Homo sapiens: one gene and its partners. The protein of the gene in region 1 interacts with the protein of each later gene in a pairwise test. Each region holds a gene or a part of one and is shown in the gene's direction. Other genes may lie near its edges.

Region 1 (3,500 bases):
GACTCCCGAGTAAGGGGATTACAGGTGCGAGCCACCACACCTGGCTAATCTTTCTTTTTCTTTCTTTCTTTCTTTCTTCCTTCCTTCCTTCCTTCCTTCCTTTCTCTTTCCTGCTTGCTTGCTTGCTTGCTTGCCTGCTTTCGACGGAGTCTTACTCTGTTGCTCAGGCTGGAGTGCAGTGGCACGATCGCAGCTTACTGCAACCTCCGCCTCCCAGGTTCAAGTGATTCTCCTCTCTCAGCCTCCTGAGTAGCTGGGACTACAGGCACCTGTCACCATGCCTGACTAATTTTTGTATTTTTAGTAGAGACAGGGTTTCACCATATTAGTCAGGCTGGTCTCAAACTCCTGACCTCAGGCGATCCACCTGCCTCGGCCTCCCAAAGTGCTGGGATTACAGGTGTGAGCCACCATGCCTGGCCTATTTTTTGTATTTTTAGTAGAGGTTTCACTATGTTGGCCAGGCTGGTCTCGAACTCCTGGCGTCAGGTGATCCACCTGCCTCAGCCTCCCAAAATGATGGCATTATAGGTGTGAGCCACCGCACCCCTCCTGGTCTCCTGATTTCAATACCGTGCTGGGTTTTCAGAAAGCCAGGTGCCAGGCCAGGGCTTGCAGAGGGGCTGAAATGAAGCCAGGCCAGAAGACAGAGCAGCCAGGACTCTGGCAGCAGCACTATTGGGATTTGGGGGCTCTCCAGCCCGTTTGGAAGAGCCTAGGCTCTCTCTGCTCGGTTGCATAGGTTCTCATACTCATGATGGGGAGGGGGGTGCGATGGGGAAGCCGGGCATGGGAGAGGATGGCTCATGCCCTGAAAGTCCATGAGAGGCCTCCTCTCCCCACATCTGCAGAAACCAGCCTGGACACCAAGTCTGTGTCAGAAGGCCACCTCAAGAGGAACATCGTGGTGAAGACCGTGGAGATGCGGGATGGAGAGGTAAGGAGGGATTTGGGCCCAGTCAGGCTCTGGCTGGCCCCAGGGATTCTCAAGGCCAGGCCATGGAGGAAAGCCTGGGGCTGGCACATAGAAGGTTCCCAGCAACTCCCAGTAGCTCCCCAGGGAATTCTGGAGGAGAGCAAGGAAACTGAATGTAATTCCGTTTCCTCAGTCCCTCCATAGGCTGTTCTAAGGGGAGCCTTGGTACCAAAGCCACTAGATGGGATCCTAATACACACTCTCTCTTTCTCACCCTCAAACTCGGGGGCCTTGCTTGCCAGGGAGAGAAAGAGAATTAAAGTTAGTAGCTTTCACTTCCAACTCTAGCAGACACAGTTGGGGATGGGGAGGGCTTTCCATTTCCAGCTTGGTAAAAGGAAACTACCAGGGGAATGGGAAGAGGGGATTTGGCGTATCCGCCACGCCACTCCAACCACAGTGGGAGCTCATCTTACTCCAGCAGCTTACCACTCGCCAGGCATGACGCTAAATGCTTTCCCAGTGTTATCTCACCACCCCCTCTGTCCACCACGCAAGGCAGCTGTGGTTACTATCAAGAAAAGTAAGACCTGGGAAGTCGGGGACTTCCCAAGGTTACACAGCCTCGTGGTGGTGGACCTGGGGTCTGTGTGAACTCCTAACTGTTGCACTGTGCACGTTCCCTGTCCCCTGCAGGTCATTAAGGAGTCCAAGCAGGAGCACAAGGATGTGATGTGAGGCAGGACCCACCTGGTGGCCTCTGCCCCGTCTCATGAGGGGCCCGAGCAGAAGCAGGATAGTTGCTCCGCCTCTGCTGGCACATTTCCCCAGACCTGAGCTCCCCACCACCCCAGCTGCTCCCCTCCCTCCTCTGTCCCTAGGTCAGCTTGCTGCCCTAGGCTCCGTCAGTATCAGGCCTGCCAGACGGCACCCACCCAGCACCCAGCAACTCCAACTAACAAGAAACTCACCCCCAAGGGGCAGTCTGGAGGGGCATGGCCAGCAGCTTGCGTTAGAATGAGGAGGAAGGAGAGAAGGGGAGGAGGGCGGGGGGCACCTACTACATCGCCCTCCACATCCCTGATTCCTGTTGTTATGGAAACTGTTGCCAGAGATGGAGGTTCTCTCGGAGTATCTGGGAACTGTGCCTTTGAGTTTCCTCAGGCTGCTGGAGGAAAACTGAGACTCAGACAGGAAAGGGAAGGCCCCACAGACAAGGTAGCCCTGGCCAGAGGCTTGTTTTGTCTTTTGGTTTTTATGAGGTGGGATATCCCTATGCTGCCTAGGCTGACCTTGAACTCCTGGGCTCAAGCAGTCTACCCACCTCAGCCTCCTGTGTAGCTGGGATTATAGATTGGAGCCACCATGCCCAGCTCAGAGGGTTGTTCTCCTAGACTGACCCTGATCAGTCTAAGATGGGTGGGGACGTCCTGCCACCTGGGGCAGTCACCTGCCCAGATCCCAGAAGGACCTCCTGAGCGATGACTCAAGTGTCTCAGTCCACCTGAGCTGCCATCCAGGGATGCCATCTGTGGGCACGCTGTGGGCAGGTGGGAGCTTGATTCTCAGCACTTGGGGGATCTGTTGTGTACGTGGAGAGGGATGAGGTGCTGGGAGGGATAGAGGGGGGCTGCCTGGCCCCCAGCTGTGGGTACAGAGAGGTCAAGCCCAGGAGGACTGCCCCGTGCAGACTGGAGGGGACGCTGGTAGAGATGGAGGAGGAGGCAATTGGGATGGCGCTAGGCATACAAGTAGGGGTTGTGGGTGACCAGTTGCACTTGGCCTCTGGATTGTGGGAATTAAGGAAGTGACTCATCCTCTTGAAGATGCTGAAACAGGAGAGAAAGGGGATGTATCCATGGGGGCAGGGCATGACTTTGTCCCATTTCTAAAGGCCTCTTCCTTGCTGTGTCATACCAGGCCGCCCCAGCCTCTGAGCCCCTGGGACTGCTGCTTCTTAACCCCAGTAAGCCACTGCCACACGTCTGACCCTCTCCACCCCATAGTGACCGGCTGCTTTTCCCTAAGCCAAGGGCCTCTTGCGGTCCCTTCTTACTCACACACAAAATGTACCCAGTATTCTAGGTAGTGCCCTATTTTACAATTGTAAAACTGAGGCACGAGCAAAGTGAAGACACTGGCTCATATTCCTGCAGCCTGGAGGCCGGGTGCTCAGGGCTGACACGTCCACCCCAGTGCACCCACTCTGCTTTGACTGAGCAGACTGGTGAGCAGACTGGTGGGATCTGTGCCCAGAGATGGGACTGGGAGGGCCCACTTCAGGGTTCTCCTCTCCCCTCTAAGGCCGAAGAAGGGTCCTTCCCTCTCCCCAAGACTTGGTGTCCTTTCCCTCCACTCCTTCCTGCCACCTGCTGCTGCTGCTGCTGCTAATCTTCAGGGCACTGCTGCTGCCTTTAGTCGCTGAGGAAAAATAAAGACAAATGCTGCGCCCTTCCCCAGAGTGGACTCTGATCTGTTCATGAGAGGGCGGGACTGGGGCCAAGATGTAGCCTTTGACAAGACCAACTCATTTCTTATTACTGATCATCTCTGGGGCCCATGCCCTCACCAAATTCCACCCGCA
Region 2 (3,500 bases), on another chromosome or scaffold:
GCAGTAAGACAGGACCTGAAAATAGACCTTCACATTTACCCATCAGTGGCTGCCAATGTTCTGGAGAATTTTTATACAGAAATAATTAAAATGACATTAACAGGGGTAGTGGTTTACTTCTGGTAATAGTGAAGGAGTGAAGTCGTCATGTGAATCCAGAGGGGAAAACAGTTATAAGAACTGTATTAAAAAAAATAAAGACACTATAAAACATCCAAAAACAGAAGCTGGAGGAGAGTTTCTAAAAAAACCTGCACATGAAAAGGAAAAGAATTGTGTGTGGGTTTTTTGTTTGTTTGTTTTTTGTTTTGTCTTTTTGGTCCCTGAGTTCTGTCTATCTCCACAGCTGCAGCTGCACAAAAACAGTACTGGGACAAACACTCAGGATCACTACGTGAAAGTACCAGGAGTTCAGAGTTCCGAGTTCTAACAGAAGAGCTGGAAATTAGGGGAATCCCTAAAAGCAGAGAAATCCCGGAGTGGATGATTCCCAGCTCTGGCCAAATCCTGGCTTATTTCCAAATTTCATAGGCATCAGGGAGAACCACAAGGCTTAAAAAGGAGCCATGGAGGCTGGGTGCAGTGGCTCACGCCTATAATCCCAGCACTTGGTGAGGCCAAGGCAGGTGGATCACAAGGTCAGGAGTTTGAGACTAGCCTGGCCAATATGGTGAAACCCCATCTCAACTAAAAAAAAAAAAAAAAAAAAAATTAGCCAGGCATGGTGGCAGGCGCCTGTAGTCCCAGCTACTCAGGAGGCTGAGGCAGGAGAATCACTTGAACCTGGGAGGCAGGGGTTCCAATGAGCCATGATTGTACCACTGCACGCCAGCCTGGACGAGCGAGCAAGACTCTGTCTCAAAAAAAAAAAAAAAACAGTCAACTAAAATTGTCTCTGAGTGGGCCCAGATATTATATTTTCCACAAAGAGACTTTGAAGAAGTTATTATGCATAAGTTCAAAGAGTTAAATTGCATGCAAAGAATTGAAGGACAATATGGTACCTTTGACTTAAGAGCAATCTCAACAGGGAGATGGAAACTATAAAAAATGGAAATTCTGGCTGGGTTCATGGTTCATGCATGTATGCCCAATGCTTTGGGAGGCTGAGGCAGGAGGATCACTTGAGGCCAGGAGTTCAAGACCAGCCTGGGAAACATCACGAGACCCCAAGTCTACAAAAAAATTAGCCAGGCAGGGTGGCATGTGCCTGTAGTCTGAGCTACTCTGGAGGCTGAGGCAGATTGTTTGAACCCAGGAGTTAAGGGTCACAGTGAGATGTGATCATGCCATTGCGTTCTAGCCTGGGCAACAGGGTGAGACCCTGTCTCTAAAAAAGAAAAAAAAAGGAAATTCTAGAGATAAAAATTATCAATGCTGAAATTTAAAATTTCTAGGTAGGGTTAATAACACATTATACATGGCAAAATAATCAGTGAAATTGAAGATAGATCTATAGGAAGAGAAATTATTCAATGCAAAAAACAGAAAGAAAAAAGATTAAAGAAAAACAAAAAGAATCTTGGAAACTTGTGGGACAATATGAAGTGGTACAACGTATGTGCAATTGGAATCTCAGAAGAAGACAGAAAATGTTTGGCAAGAAAAAAAAAGAAGAAATAATGGGTAAAAAGTTTCCAAATTTAGTGGGAAACATTAATTTCAGATCCAAGAAGGTTAACTCAACTTATAAGCAATGATAAACTCAAGTCATAATCAAATGGCTAGGCTGTAAACCAAAGATAAAAGGAAAGTCTTGAAAGCAGTAAAGAAAAATGACATGGAATGAGAATGAGAAAAATGACATACAGGGAAATAATATTTATGGTTGTCATCTCATCTGAAACTGTGGAAGCTGGTTGACATTGGAACAACATATTTCAAGTGCTAAGAGAAAGTCTTTCAACTATATGTAAACCAGTAAAAAAAGAAACAAAAATAGTGTTTTTATAGATTTGAGAAAATACTGCATTCATAAGATGAAAAGAAAATGCCATGGGAAATTACTGATCCATATTGTATTTTGTTTACTTTTATTGTGGCACTTAGTATATTATGATTTGTATTGTAATTGTTTTTAGTCGTGTCTGTCTTAGCTCATGAGACTGTAAACTCCTGGAAGCCAGGAAGATGGTAATGACCTGTAACTGCTGAATGAATTTAAAGTGGATAGCCAGTTTTCTCTTAGCACGTCCCTTAGAACTCCTTTGAGCAGAACATTTCAGGTACGGTAGCTCCTGTGTTCTGACTGTAGATTGTATTTATGAGCTATTGAAGTTTGCTAAGTTTCCAGGGTAGAGAAAGTAGCGATAGAGTCATCCTTTGATGGGCTTTGTTTATTCTATGTAATGTGAAATTAAAACAAATTGTTCTAATAAATTTGTTCAGGGAAGTTTGTATTCAAGTATATAATCATGCTGGGTTTTAAAAATGTACACTTTGTCTTCGGTGAATCTAGGGACATCAAGTAAAAGCTCAGGCTCTTTCTGGATTGGGAAGAAGTAAGGAAGTGTTAAAGGAATTTCTCTACTGCCTTGCTCTGAATCCTGAATGTAACTCTGTGAAGAAAGAAGCACAGAAGGTATGAGTTCTGTTAAAGGACTTTCTCTATCAGGTCTTATTTATAGCCTTCATGTCCATGCTGAGTAACCCTTGCATGTGAAATAAACAAGAAATATAATTCTGAATGTTCGTGATAATGCAATAAAAAACGCATGGCAATAATTGTAAGGTTCATACATTGGATAACTTCTAGGTAAACATTATATTTTGTCCCTGGGTAAAGCAGAGTGTTTCATGAGACAGTGTAAACATGCCTCGATTCTGTTGACATAAAGACACATGTTAGGCAAGGTTATTATAGTTTGTGTAGAAGCTTCATAAAAGACATTATGATATATGTAAAATGTATCAATTCGGCTCTATAGGGTGACCTGTAATTTTCAGCAAAGGTTCACCAGCATAGTGCAGAAATACCTGCTCTTTTACCCATCATCCAGTCACACTGAATGTGGAAATCTGTCCTGTTAAAAAGCTTATACAATAGTTACCTGGTATTTACTTAGCATTTCCAATGACCAGCGTTTTTATGTTTTTATGTTTGCGCTTCCCTGTTTTAACACTGTTTATTGTCAACTTCTACCACGTATTTACCCTGTAATTTTTACTTACCTGTGTAGTTCTATTTTCTGGAGCAACAGAAAATGAATCAGTTCTTCCTTGTACAATTCAAACCACGTTAGATGTTTGGGAACAGCTATTATCTTTGCCTTAATGTCACCCTGTGGGCCAAACATTCTTTTCTCACAGAGTGGCGTTTCTAAGATTTCCTCTTCTGGATGTGTTCTAATGTACCCTGTGTTTTAGCATCTACATTTGACAGCCACAGTTGGTGAAATTTTACCTTCACTTGTGTTCACATTAGGGGCATGTTTATTTTTAAATACCTCGTTCCTCTTTTTTAAAAGTAAGAACTTCAGAGCAATGTTGTTTTTTATCTT
Region 3 (3,500 bases), on another chromosome or scaffold:
ATTTGGTTCAATGCCAAATAGGGCCCTTTTTAATCTACTAAATTCCCATGATGTGTCTCTTATAGCCATGTAGATTGGCCAGTCTGATCTTGAAAGACTCCAAAAAGTATCTCTGGGGTCTTGTGAAGTAGGCCTTGAAACAAGATGATAAATCCCACCAAACCCCATAGGGGACAGCAGTTGGCCTGGATTCCAGTGATTCCATGCTAGAAGGTCAGCTGTGTGTTCAGAGGCTCCTGATAGAGTCAAAGAAATGAAGTAACTTTGCCTGAGGCCACCCAGCTAGTAGAGGAAGAGCCAGATTTGACCCGGTTCCGTTTCACTCAGAGTCAAGCCTTGCTGTTTGCACTTGCTGGCCTGTGAGTGCCTGGCACACAGCTGGCCCACAGGGATTATGCCTTCTTTTTAAAGGTGTTGTTTCATTAGTAGGTGGGTTAAACTTACCTTCTCCTTTCTAACTGGATTTTTGGTATTATTAAGTACCACTGTGCATTCAGTGAAAAGGAATGAATTAAAATCTATTTCTGAAAATTTTATCTTGATTAGGATGTGAATTTATAGAGTTTTTAAAAAAATAGGTCATTTAGGGAAAATGAAAACAAAAAGTTCACACTTGAGACTCCACTTTTTTATTACTCTCCAAATCCAGAGACTATAATTGCTCATTCACCCTTTCAAAAAGAACTGTACTATCTTGTCTAGAACTCTTGATGTGCTTTGGGACTCTGATCTAGGCATTGGGACATTTATAGGGATAGTAGCTAATATTTCTTAAGCCCTTATTCTTATGAATGTCCAGGCATATTTAATCTATAATTTCCCAGTATAATAGCTGGTTAGGCCACTAGAATTTAAAATTGACCATTGAATCTGTTTTCAAAAGATTTGCTCTACTGTCCTTAATTTGAAAACAGAGCACTTCAGACATAGTTTAAATATATTCTAAATTTAGATACTCTGAAAATATAATTAGGCAAACTGTGAAACCTTGCTGAACCTCAATTGCCTCATCTATAAAATGATGATTATTTAATTTTCCTGTGATACTTATTTTATCTTTTGTAGTCTCTGTAAGCAAAAGGTTTATTATCACTGTCCTCAGGGTATAGGTAGCACATGGTCATTTATTCCAGCTTCTTTACTTACTAGCTTTGTGACTTGTGTGAGTTACTTAGCCTCTGTGCCTTCGTTTTCTGTCTGTAAAATGGGAATAATAACAATACCTGCATCTTAGTATTTTTGTAAGAATTAAATGAGTTAATTTATGCAAAGCTGTGCCTGACACATAATAAATGCTGAATGAGTGTTAGCTATTATTCCTGTTGTCATAATTGTTATTATTACAGACTGTTTTCACATACATTTTCCCACTTGATCTCCCCAGCATTGCTGAGGGTGTAGACAAGCAGATAGTCCTAAACCCAATTTTATTTAAAAAGATAAAAAATGAGAGAGGTAAGAGAGTTGCCTGAGATCATAAGTGGCAGAGGAGAATAGGAACAGTCGGTCTGTTTAGCTTCAGCTTACTTGTATGAGTGAGATAACCAAGTCTGTTGGTAATAAAAAAACCCAATCCAGTTTTATATTGCTATAGTGGAAAATAAATTAAGTTGGCAGACAATTTAGAGAGTGTTTCGAGTGTTTCTTTGCTATGTAAAAGTTTGACTGCAGAGCTCTGCTAAATAACAAATGCCTCTAAATACTTAAAATAAGATCTACCCTATAAGAAAAATATTTCCACTCAAGGCACATCTATACCAGCTTCCCCCACCTAAGCCATGTGACATGACAGCAGAAGAATACATTAACTGTCCCATAGACAAAGTAACAGGATGAAGGCAGCCCAGGCCCAGTGTCAGGAGTCCTTAAACTGACTCTTCACACCAGCAACTCTGACACTTATTTGGGTCACATTGTTATGTTGTTTTAGAGTTTGTGAAGTTCTTTCAGGTTGTGAAATTCAACCAAAGATAGGATTCGGACTTAACTATCTCTTTAGTACCGATTTCTGAAAGACTATTTCTTCAAGCAGTTGTAGAAGATGGGTCTTAAATGTCAAAGTAGTAGGTCTAGGAATGTAGAAAGAGCTAAATTTGGCGATGAGTGTGTCAAATAAAACCCCCCAAAATGCATATCGAGTCTGAGCCATGCTCCACTGGGCAGTTTATTGCCTTGTTTCTAGCTTAGCTAATTACAGATTTTCTAAATGCCACGTAAAATAACATGCTATGTTCTTACGGGTAAATAATGTGTACAGTGAGCAAAAATGGTGAACTTTCAAAGTAGGAATGAGGGATATATGGAGAAAACGCCTCAAGGCAGGACATGTCGTGTCATCTGGGTTTTAGAGGACTGATTCTGATAGAAAAGCAAGTAGCAGCTTGACCAAGGAAAGCTAAGGCATTTGAGAGTGGGAGGGGATTGGAAAAAGTAGCTCTATATGTGTGATTGGTTTCTTCAGCAAATATATGTATGTATATATAAAGTGCCTGGTATGTGAAAGTACTTAGGTGAGGGAAAAACAAAGAAGGATAATAATTGAATAAGATTTACTTCTTCATCCCAGCTTCATCAGCATGATGACACAAAAACAAATCACTGTAACAATAAGTAAAGAGCATTGATAGACATAACTTCAGAACACTCTCATGGTGCAGAGATGTTGTCCACACCTCGTTCTCCTACTCTCTGAGACTAAATCTGAGGAAGTTGACAAAACCTCAAGGCTAGTGTGATGTTTCTTGTGCTCTTACCTAGCACCAGTCATTCCCTGTGAGTGCGTCAGGGCTGCACAACTTGAGACAGAATTTCATCATCTGGCCCTCTAATTCAGTCTCCTTTGCTTGAGGATCTCATGCATTCCCAGGGCTTTAACTCTATGCAGATGACTTTAAAACTATGCCTATATCCTTGACTACTCATGAGCTCAGGCTTACAATTCCATCTTCCTGCTGAACATCTCCTCTACAATATCTCACCTATACTGCCTGTGAACATGTGCATAACAAAGTTTGTGTGAAAACAGGATTGTTTTTTCTATTAATAAAGTAATATGTGCTCAGTGTAGCAAAGCTGGAAAACAGAAAAGAAAAACAAGAAAGAAATACAAACAATGTATGCATATTTGCCCCCACTTAATGATAAGTAGTAAATGATGCTATTTGTAAGTCTAAACTAGACATTTGTCCACATTCAGTGGACTTTCTAGTTTGTGTTAACCAAAATACCTTACCCCCAGTTACTTAGGCTTGAAACCTCTGCCATCTTTTCTCTTTTGACCCTCATATGTCACCAGTCTCCAAGTCAGATAGTACATATGCCTCTCTTTTCCCACTGCCATAGACCAGAGACAGCACTTTTTTACATACCTGTTCTGGATCATAGCCTCTTAGCTAGCTCTAATCTCTGCCTCCTCCAGTTCTCAGGTGTATCAAAGCCAAATTTATCTTCCCAGAACATCTTTCTTTTCTATTGGCTATAGATTACACATGCTGTGATGA
Region 4 (3,500 bases), about 37 Mb from region 1:
CTAGCTCTTATAGCTGGACAAACCATGTTTCCCATCTTCCCTTCCTCTACTTCCCCTGGATTTCTTTTTTTTAATTTATTTTTTTAATTTTTTGGAGAAAAGAGTCTTAGTGTCGCCCAGGCTGGAGTGCAATGGTGCGATCTCTGCTCACTGCAACCTCCACTTCCTGGGTTCAAGTGATCCTCCTGCCTCAGCCTCCCGAGTAGCTGAGATCACAGGCATGCGCCACCATGCATGGCTAATTTTTATATTTTTAGTAGAGACGGGGTTTCACCATGTTGGCCAGGCCGGTCTCAAACTCCTGACCTCAGGTGACCCACCCACTTTGGCCTCCCAAAGGGCTGGGATTACAGGAGTGAGCCACCATGCCTGGCCTTTTTTTTTTGTTTATTTTGTTTTGAGAGAGAGTCTTGCTCTGTCACCCAGGCTGGTGTGCAACCTCTACCTCCTGGGTTCAAGCGATTCTCCTGCCTCAGCCTCCCGAGTAGCTGGGACTACAGGCACGTGCCACCACAGCAGGCTAATTTTTTGTATTTTTAGTAGAGACGGGGTTTCACCATGTTAGCCAGGCTGGTCTCGATCTCCTGACCTCAAGTGATCCATCCACCTGGGCCTCCCAAAGTGCTGGGATTACAGGCGTGAGCCACTGCACCCGGCCTAATTTTTGTATTTTTAGTAGAGACAGGTTTTTGCCATGTTGGCCAGGCTGGTCTTGAACTCCTGACCTCAGGTGATCCGCCTGCCTCGGCCTCCCAAAGGGCTGGGATTACAGGTGTGAGCCACCGTGCCCGGCCGTGGTAACTGTTGATAGGGAATGTGAGGTAGGTACTGTGGTAGGAAAATTAGGGCCCCTCACGGTGCACCCTGAACCTGATTTCTCTTTACTGCAGCGGCCACCATGCTGCCACTGGGCTCAGAGCCCGCCCTGAATGAGCTGCTGCTTCGCAAGGAGGAGGAGTGGAGGGCGCTGCAGGCACACCGCACCCAGCTGCAGGAGGCGGCTCTGCAGGACACACGGAGCCAGCTGGAGGAGGCGCAGGGGAAACTGCGGTGCCTGCAGGAGGACTTTGTCTACAACCTTCAGGTGCTGGAGGAGCGGGACCTCGAGCTGGAGCGCTATGACGCCGCCTTCGCCCAGGCCAGGGAGTGGGAAGAGGCCAGGCGGGCAGAGGTGAGCGAGCTCAAGATAGAGGCAGCTAAGCTGAGGCAGGCGCTAGCCAGAGAGGCCAGGAAGGTGGAGGAGCTGCAGCAGCAGCAGCAGCTGGCATTCCAGGAGCATCGCCTGGAGCTGGAGCGCGTCCACAGGTGAGCCACCGACCGACGCGCCCTCCTGTGCAGTGCCTGGCAGAGGCCCCCACATGCCTCCTGCTCCGCTGTGCTGCCCGAGCACTGCCCACTCTCACTGCCCCTCCTCCCGCTGCTGATTCCAGGCCACGGGAGCTGGTCTGTCTGAGTGGCCGAGTGCCTCGTGGCCTCTGAACATGTGTTTGTTGAGTTAATGTGGATGGATCCAGGAATGCCCTGACTGTCTTTTTCTGGGTTCTGATATAACTCTGAAATTAATGGAGATTGGTTTTAATATTTGGAATTTATTTCATTAATTATAAATCTATATTAATACATATTTGAATTTATAATGATTTTAATGGAAGTCTGTAGTAATTTCAAAACTAAATGAGCTGACTTAAGGCAAGTCGACATAAAAACCTAAAGCCTTTGTTGTGGGGCCTGTGGTGGGGCCCCTGGAACTCAACCACATGCCTGGTATCCCCTCAGCTCCACTCACCCAGCCATGCTGTGGAGAGTTTGAGGAGACAGGAAGGAAGGAGGACAGGCTTCTCTGATAAGCTCTTCCATCCCCCACTTCAGAAGTACCGCAGGTTCATCATAGCACATTAACAGAGGCCCTTCCTGTGTGATGCGTGTGTACAGACGTTAGGAGAGCCGGCTGCATGCTCTGTTTACACTTAACAGGATCCTGGGTACTTTTTTTATGTTTTATGTATTCTTCTAACATAAGCAGCATTTTTTTTCTTTTCTTTTTTTTTGAGACAGAGTTTTTAGCTGTGTTGTCCAGGCTGGATCGCAGTAGCGTGATCTCGGCTCGCTGCAACCTCCATCTCCCGGGTTCAAGTGATTCTCCTGCCTCAGCCTCCCACGTAGCTGGGACTATAGGTGCCCACCACCACGCCCGGCTAATTTTTTTTTCTTTTGTATTTTTAGTAGAGACGGGGTTTTGCCATGTTGCCCAGGCTGGTCTTGAACTCCTGACCTCAGGTGATCCACTGGCCTTGGCTTCCTGAAGTGCTGGGATTATAGACGTGAGCTACCGCGCCTGGCCATAAGCAGCTTTTTAAAGCACTTTTTAAAGCCGCAGGAGTAAACTATTCTTATCATAGAAAGTCATTTCTCAGAGAAGATACTGTGGTGGAATGGCGAAGTGAAAGCCGCCACGGGCAATCTGTTGTGTCATCTCCAGGCCCCATATAGAGCCACCTGCGCACACTGCTCCGAAATGTGCGTCCAGCACTTCCTGATCGATTTGTGGTGTCTGTCCTTCGTGTCAGTGCGCTGGGTTCTGCCACGCCCTTTTAACTGACCAGCTACCCTCTGTTGTGTGTGTTGGGCCGGTTTGCTCAGAAGGGTCTCAGATGGGTGTGAACGGGCCAACAGGACCACACCAGGTGCTCCGGTCCAGCAGAGAGACCTTCTGCGGCAGGTCAGGTGCAAGGAGAGGAGACCCACATTGGTGGGTGTGGTGCCCCTCTAGCTCAGAAGCCCCAACCAGTATTGTGCAGCCAGTATCTCCTGTAGCAGCCCGCAGGGATCGCGTCTGCAGTCCCTGCAGCAGATGTACCCTGAGCGCCACCGTCTTCTGGGAAGCCCACAGTGTTGATGGTCCCTCTCTCTATCGCATCTCGCGGCGTGGATAAAAAGTGCCAGTCAGCAGTCATTTGACCCACGCAGTGCTGCTTGCTAATGTGGTAGACACCCGTGTGCCACCTGCCCAGTGTCCAGGGAAAGAGAGAGTTGAGCTGGAGGTCAGCTTCTCCCTGAGTGGAGGGAGGGTGTCTGGAAGCTCCCGTCCCCAGCATGAAGGCTGGTGCTCAGCCTGCACCTCGTCTGGGCGCCGAGTCCGTGCAGGTGCGTGCAGTGCTTGGACAGCTGAGGCCCACTTGCCCGCCGTGCGGGTGCTGACTTTCTCATAGCTGCTTTCCAGAGTGTTTACAGCATCCTTTTAAAAGTGCTTTACGTTATGTTGTGAAGTGTCTCTTCAAGTCTTTTGCTCATTCTTCTCTCCAAACCTGGGATGTTTTCAGCCATGTTCAGGTACTTTTTCAGTCTCACACTCTTTTTTTTTTTTTGAGACAGAGTCTTGCTCTGTCGCCCAGGCTGGAGTGCAGTGGCGCGATCTCGGATCACTGCAACCTCTGCCTCCGGGGTTCAAGGGGTTCTCCTGCCTCAGCCTCCCGAGGAGCTGTCACTACAGGTGTGTGCCA

What was found. Proteins that work in one complex are often made in the same cells at the same time.
Region 2: the proteins of GFAP (region 1) and LONRF2 interact in binary tests that used the Homo sapiens proteins (3 or more experiments, as listed by UniProt).
Region 3: the proteins of GFAP (region 1) and RAB38 interact in binary tests that used the Homo sapiens proteins (3 or more experiments, as listed by UniProt).
Region 4: the proteins of GFAP (region 1) and CCDC57 interact in binary tests that used the Homo sapiens proteins (3 or more experiments, as listed by UniProt).

The regions. Positions count from the first base shown.
Region 1 is NC_000017.11:44,905,501-44,909,000, reverse strand, and holds part of GFAP (glial fibrillary acidic protein), read left to right. Parts: intron 1-851; coding exon 852-937; intron 938-1,612; coding exon 1,613-1,654; 3' UTR 1,655-3,500.
Region 2 is NC_000002.12:100,302,002-100,305,501, reverse strand, and holds part of LONRF2 (LON peptidase N-terminal domain and RING finger protein 2), read left to right. Parts: intron 1-2,458; coding exon 2,459-2,581; intron 2,582-3,500.
Region 3 is NC_000011.10:88,168,944-88,172,443, reverse strand, and holds part of RAB38 (ras-related protein Rab-38), read left to right. Parts: intron 1-3,500. UniProt on the Homo sapiens protein: The small GTPases Rab are key regulators of intracellular membrane trafficking, from the formation of transport vesicles to their fusion with membranes.
Region 4 is NC_000017.11:82,199,343-82,202,842, reverse strand, and holds part of CCDC57 (coiled-coil domain-containing protein 57), read left to right. Parts: intron 1-890; coding exon of another isoform or gene 891-898; coding exon 899-1,305; intron 1,306-3,500. UniProt on the Homo sapiens protein: Pleiotropic regulator of centriole duplication, mitosis, and ciliogenesis. Critical interface between centrosome and microtubule-mediated cellular processes. Centriole duplication protein required for recruitment of CEP63, CEP152, and PLK4 to the centrosome.